Homo sapiens: one gene and its partner. The protein of the gene in region 1 interacts with the protein of each later gene in a biochemical or structural test. Each region holds a gene or a part of one and is shown on either strand. Other genes may lie near its edges.

The links.
Region 2: the proteins of FBXL3 (region 1) and CRY2 form a complex in vitro, tested with the Homo sapiens proteins (2 studies listed by BioGRID, with this or other methods).

The regions. Positions count from the first base shown.
Region 1 is NC_000013.11:77,009,841-77,013,659, forward strand, and holds part of FBXL3 (F-box/LRR-repeat protein 3), read right to left. Parts: intron 1-3,819. UniProt on the Homo sapiens protein: Substrate-recognition component of the SCF(FBXL3) E3 ubiquitin ligase complex involved in circadian rhythm function. Plays a key role in the maintenance of both the speed and the robustness of the circadian clock oscillation.
Region 2 is NC_000011.10:45,880,957-45,883,910, reverse strand, and holds the end of CRY2 (cryptochrome-2), read right to left. Parts: 3' UTR 667-2,954; downstream 1-666. UniProt on the Homo sapiens protein: Transcriptional repressor which forms a core component of the circadian clock.

The DNA of each region.
Region 1 (3,819 bases):
TTGGAACCAACCCAAATGCCCATCAATGATAGACTAAAGAAAGAAAACATGGCACATATGCACCATGGAATACTATGCAGCCATAAAAAGGGATGAGTTCATGTCCTTTGCAGGGACATGGATGAAGCTGGAAACCATCATTCTCAGCAAACTAACACAAGAACAGAAAACCAGACACCGCATGTTCTCACTCATAAGCGAGAGTTGAACAATGAGAACACATGGACACCGGGAGGGGAACCTCACACGCTGGTGCCTGTCGGGAGTTGGGGGGCTAGGGGAGGAATAGCATTAGGAGAAATACCTAATGTAGATGACAGGTTGATGGGTGCAGCAAACCACCGTGGCACGTGTATATCTATGTAACAAACCTGCATGTTCTGCACATGTACTCCAGAACTTAAAGTATAATAATAATTAAAAAAAAACACACAGACATGGGAAATGGTAGCTAACCATTCAAATGAAAGAAACTGTGGAGTATCATTTAATAACTACAAAAGCAGTTGTGGCAGGCGTAATTCTCAAAATGGCCTCCAAGATCCCACACCCTAATGCCTAGCATCTGTGAATTCCATAAGATATCATGCCCATGATTATGATATATGGTACAGCTGAGCATATAAAAGATTATCTGGATGGTCCTAGTCTAATCATATGAGCCCCTTTTAAAGCAGTTTCCTCTGGCTGATTGCAGAAGAGGAAGTCAGAGAGATTCAAAATGCAAAGGGGACTCAATGTGTTATTGCTGGCTCTAAGCTAGAGGGGGCCAAAAAAGAAAAATCACAACCAGCCTCTAAGAGCAGAAAGACCCCCTAACAGCCTCCTGCTGACAGCCAATAAGGAAACTGGATGTCAGTCCAACAATCACAAGGAACTAAATTCAGCCAATAACTTGAATGAGCGTGGAGGTGGATTCTTCTGCAGAGCCTCCAGGTAAGAGCCCAGCCTTCCTGACATTTTCCTCTCAGCCTTTTAAGATTTTAAGCAGAGAAGCCACTTGAGCCCTAACTACAGCTCTAATGTACAGAACAGTGGAGCAAATAAATGGGTGTTGGTTTAAGCTGCTTTGTGTATAGCTGTCAGTTATGTACCAGTAAGAACATAGTTCCAAGTATTTAAAAACATAACACAGTGACAAAAGTAAAATAAAACTAGGGCACTATTACGACTCAATAAATTAAGACAAATAACCCAAATTAGAAAATAGGCAAAGGGGCTGGGTGCAGTGGCTTACACCTGTAATCCCAGCACTTTGGGAGGCCAAAGCGGACGGATTGCCTGAGGTCAGAAGTTCGCGACCAGCCTGGCCAACACGGTGAAACCCCATCTCTACTAAAAATACAAAAATTAGCCGGATGTGGTGGCGGGCACCTGTAATCCCAGCTACTCAGGAGGCTGAGGCAGGAGAATCACCTGAACCCGGGAGGCGGAGGTTGCAGTGAGCCGAGATCAATGCCACTGCACTCTCCAGCCTGGGCAACAAGAAGGAGACTTTGTCTCCAAAAAAAAAAAAAAAAAATAGGCAAAGGATCTGAATAGACATTTCTCCAAAGAAGATATACAAATGGCCAAGAAGCACCATGAAAAGACAGTCAAGGTCAGGCACGGTGGCTCTCGCCTATAATCCCAGCACTTTGGGAAGCTGAGGTGGGAGGAACACTTGAGCCCATGAGTTCGAGACTAGCCTAGGCAACCAGGCAAAACCCCATCTCTACAAAAATTACAAAGTATTAGCCGGGCATAATGGCGTATGCCTGTGGTCCCAGCTACTTGGGAGGCTGAGGTGAGAAGATCGTTTAAGCCCAGGAGGTCCAGACTGCAGTAAGCCAGGATCACGCCACTCCACTCCAGCCTGGGCGACAGAGTGAGACCCTGTCTCAAAAAAAAAAAAAAAAAAGATACTCAACATCATTAGTCAACAAGAAAATGTAAATCAAAACCACAATGAGTTTACACCCCCTAGCATGGCTATAATCAAAAAGACAAATAAGTGTTAGAAGACACTGCTAGTGGCTATGTAAAGTGGTACACAGCAGCTTTGGAAAACAGCCTGGCATTACCTCAAATGGGGAGTATGATCACTAGGTATGTACCTAAGAGAAATTAAACCATATGTCCGCACAAAATTTGTACATAAATGTGCACAGCAGCATTATTCATAAGTCAAAAGGTAGATTTCCATTTATATGAAATGTCCAGAACAGGCAAATCTACAGAGACAGAAAATAGATTAGTGGTTGTTGAGGGATGGCTGGGATGGAGGTTTTGGGGGCAACAGCTAAGAGGTATGTGGTTTCTTTTTAGAATAATAAAAGCATTCTAAAATTGTGGTGATGCATGCACTACTCTACCAATACACTAAAAATCAATAAATTGTACATTTTAAATGAGAATTGTGAATTATATGCCAATAAAGCTGTTAAAAAATTGGTGATTAGTGGTGGTACTATAAATTCATACAACTCATTTGGAAAAAAAAAATATGGCAAAAAGCACAAAGACCTTTGTCCTAGGACTTCCACTTCTTAAGAATGTACCCTAAGGAAGAAATTAATACAAGCAAACTGCTATAAGCCAATTTTTTTTTTAATCACAGCAAAAAAGGTAAAAACAAGTGTCCAACTTTAGAACTATAATGCAATGTTGGCTTTATAGGGAACTAAGTAACTAAATGTTCATTAGTTCAACCTGATAATTAATATTAAGGAAGCAACAGGCAAACTAACCTAGAGGTCCAGTTACAGACAATTATAACAACTATAGGAAATGAAAGAAAATTGATTAAATGTTCAGTGAGGAAAGTAGAATACAGTCCCTAATTTCAACTTAGAGAAACTGTCCAAATATGCAAAAGATAGATAGAAAATATGAAAATATGAAATTTCAACTGAAATCTTATGTGGTTATGCTCTTCAAATAGAAAGTATTACAAGTGTTCTTTCTTTTTTTTGAGACAGAGTCTCGCTCTGTTGCCAGGCTGGAGCACAGTGGTGCGACCTCGGCTCACTGCAACCTCCGCCTCCCGGATTCAAACGATTTTCCTGCCTCAGCCTCCCAAGTAGCTGGGACTACAGGCGTGCACCACCATGCCCAGCTAATTTTTGTATTTTTAGTAGAGACGGGCTTTCACCATGTTGGCCAGGATGGTCTGGATCTCTTGACCTCGTGATCTGCCTGCCTCGGCCTCCCAAAGTGCTGGGATTAACAGACGTGAGCCAACGTGCCCAGCTGTATTAAAAAGTATTCTTTCTCTTCCCTTCCCTTCCTGAAGAACTAGTCCAAAAGTCATTATGAAACCAACTTTGCAAAATTATGACCGTGAAAGAAATCAGACCTAACCGACCCTATCTTGCTTCTAACCCTTAAGCTGCCCTGGTTCATTCCTGGGCATAGGCCGAATTAACTTTGGGAAGGAATTCGGTTCACGGTTTGACTCTGAAACAAAACTGGTAACCGCCGTTTCACAAAAAGACCCCTCCTTCTTGCCGGGGTCCAGTCTGCCTTTGCAGGACTTCCAAACTAGCTACAAGATTAGAAATTACAATGTGGGGGTCATGAAGCCTCTGGCTCCAAGAGTCTGAACCTCCCCAAATTGCTCCTGGCAATAACATGATTATTGTAAAACCTAAGAACAGTGCTTGAGATATTTTGCAAACCCTGCACTAGATGGATCAGCTGACACCATCCAGACTGGTAATCTGGGCCAACTGGTTCTGCCATGGCACCTAGGAACAGAAGACATTAAGAAAACCTAACTCTGACCCCTTATAATTCCATCTCCAAACTGACCAATCAGCACTTCCCAAGCCCCTACCT
Region 2 (2,954 bases), on another chromosome or scaffold:
AGGTTCCTCCCCTTTTCTCCTTCTTCACTCTGTGCAGGCCAGACTGTGATATTCTTGGGCCTTGCCTGGGCCCCTTCCCAGAAAGTTGGGGTGTGAGCTAATAAAGCTTTCAGTCCAAGGCTAGCATCCCCTAGCATGGAAGCAGGGCACACTGCACAGAGAGGGGCCATTCTCTGGCCAGGAGACAAAGCCAGCATCCAGGCGCCCTAGGCTTGGCTGTGGGCAGATCTCAACCACCTAGTCACAGCCAGAGAGCCTGCATCCCCTCCTCACCACAGGCTGCAGCTTAAGTGGCTGCATTGAATTAAAGGATGGATTGAGGGCGTGGAGCAGGCCCTGCACTGACTGACCCCCAGCCTGGGAGGGGGTTTAAGTGGGCTGCAAGGCTGGGTGGCACTGCAGGATGGCACTTAGGACCCTCACTCTGGGCCAGAGTGCTCTGTACTATTTTGGCCAATTGACCCCCAACTCTTGACCAAGCTCTGGACCAACTCTTGACCAAGCTGCTCCAGTCTGCTCTGGCTGCTCCCCCTTCCTAAGGAGGAATAGGAGGCTCCTGACTCCCACAGAACCAAGATGGGGTGGCCGACAGCTTCATTCAGGCTCAGGCTTACCAAAACCCTGGTTCCCAGGCCTCCCACAAGATTGACGACAGCACAAACTTACTCAAGACAGGTCAGACATTTATAAAACAAGTGAATATTCACAAACAAATTGTGGGAGAAACACACCTTCCCAGCAATAGAAAATCTCTATAAAGTGCATTTTGCCTGCAACCATCTCTTCCCCATGCTGGCCCTTGGGTCAGGATTTGAGGCACTGTTCCGAGGGAGCCCTCAGGGCCACCTGAGCTGGGAGAAGGGAGGCATGAAGCCACCATGGAGCTCCAGGCTACTGGACATACCCTCTCTACCCTGCCCTTCCCTCTTGGCTCCAGGAGTGCACTGCCTGACTCCACTGGCAGGTTGATCTGGGAACGGGCTGACATGCTAGGGATGGTGGAGAAGTAGGCGGAGGTGGTCCTGCCAACCTGTACCTTAGGGAAGAGAGCCAGCAGCAGACAGGCAGGAAAAGGAATCATCCTGCTACCCGAAGGCGCTGCTAGTGAATACTAAATCTGGGCCTCGGCCTTTGGCCTTCCCACTCTCAGATTTGCCCTTCCAGGTTTGCTTGACTCTCTTTCTGGCAGTGGCCCGATTCTCTTTCCTCTCGACTGGGGCTGAGGGAACAGGGAAGCCCCCAACCCAATGCTCTGAATGCACACCATCCCCTGTGCCCTGCTCCCCTCCCACGATGATGGGACATTTCTAGTGAAGGTGACATACGTACAACAGTTGGACTCTAAAGGCAGCTCTCTGGCTGAGAAAACCTGAGGATATCTCAGGAAGAAGCCTGTCAGTGTGATGGACAGCTACAGGAGATGGGTCTGACCCCAGGGTTCTGGTCCAAGGACAGAGGACAGTGAGGGACAGGGCTGGGGCCAAAAGAATTAACAGATCTGAGGCTAGGAAAGGTCACAGGGGAGGTAGAAAGGAAAAGGCCCAAAGGCCAGCTTAATGATACACGTGAGGACAAAAATCCAAACAGGAATCAGCCTCATAGCCACACACACACACACGTACCACACACGCACACACACACACACACTTTGTGGCTCAAGTGCAGGCCACAGGGTGGAAGGAAGACTTGCTTTAGTTGGCCACCGTCGTCCTTTTGCATGACATCTTTCTCAACACAGGCCTTTGGCAGTGGGAAGGAAGAGGTGGGAGGCACAGGCCACTCCTGGAATGCAAGGATTGGCTTCTCTGGGTCAAACCTCCCACCTACTGCTCCTGGAAGGAATGGTGTTCTGGGTGTAATCTCTACTTGGACTTTTGCCAACTGCCCCTGGCAGTCCCCATCCCTGAGTCCCTCTGCCTGAGTCCTTGGAGCTCAGCTACTGGGATAGCTGACATGGCAGTCTGGATGCTGACAAGTCCAGGACAGGCCCTGGAAGCCAACAGAATAAAGACTAGAATGGTTTCCCTGGCTGGGTGTCAGCTGTCCTCACTGGCAGCACTGTGGTGCCTTGGAGTGTGGCCAGAGAAACCAGGGGGCCTTACGCCACTGCAACCTGGTCTCCTCCTGGTAGAGTGAGTCAGTTTGACCCTTGCCCCTTCACAGCTCCTGGGTAGGCTCTGAGGCTGGCTCTTAGCTTCTGGGGAAGGAACAATGACAGCTGGGATTCTCTTTCTAATTTTAGGTTCTAAATCCTGAAAAGGTAGGTGTGCTGTCTTAGGCTCCTATTACAGTACCAGGCATACCCCACACCAGTCAGGTATCTGTGTGTACTTCTGTAGGGTGGTGGAAACTTTTTAGATCTGTCTATGGCCTCATGCTCAGTCCCAGAAGCCCAAGGAAGGGCCTGGGACTGAGCCCAGTAGCAGAGAATTTTAAAATAAGAAACAGAGGCCAGGTGGCTACGTCTGGACAGCATCCATCCACTCCGGCCTGCTCAGCCTCCAGGTCAGAAAGCAGGAACTCAGCAGGGCTCTGGCTGCCTCCAGAATCCCATGCTTTGGACAACAGCCAGAACTGCTGTGCTCCTGCTCCACAGCCTGACGTGAGGAGGGAGGGAAGGAGGTCTAGGGAGGCAGATGCCAGAATCCCAGCTAGGGTCCTACCACTACGTTCTGTTCAGACAAGGCAGCTGGCTTGCAGGAACAGGTCTCAGCTGAAAGTCACTGCCATAACCTCGAGCCTTGTGTCTGGAGGCCGGGAAACAGCACTGGCGTGCTACAGGTACTCCCCCAGCCCAGGCAACATTCAGAATCATGAGTGTCAACAGATGCATGCACACACAAACAGGCACACCACTCCCTCCTCTGCACACGCGCACACACACACACATGCTCGCTCTATCTCTGCCCGGTGATCAGCTTCTCTGCAGGTTGTACTCTGCTGCTGCGGTGGCT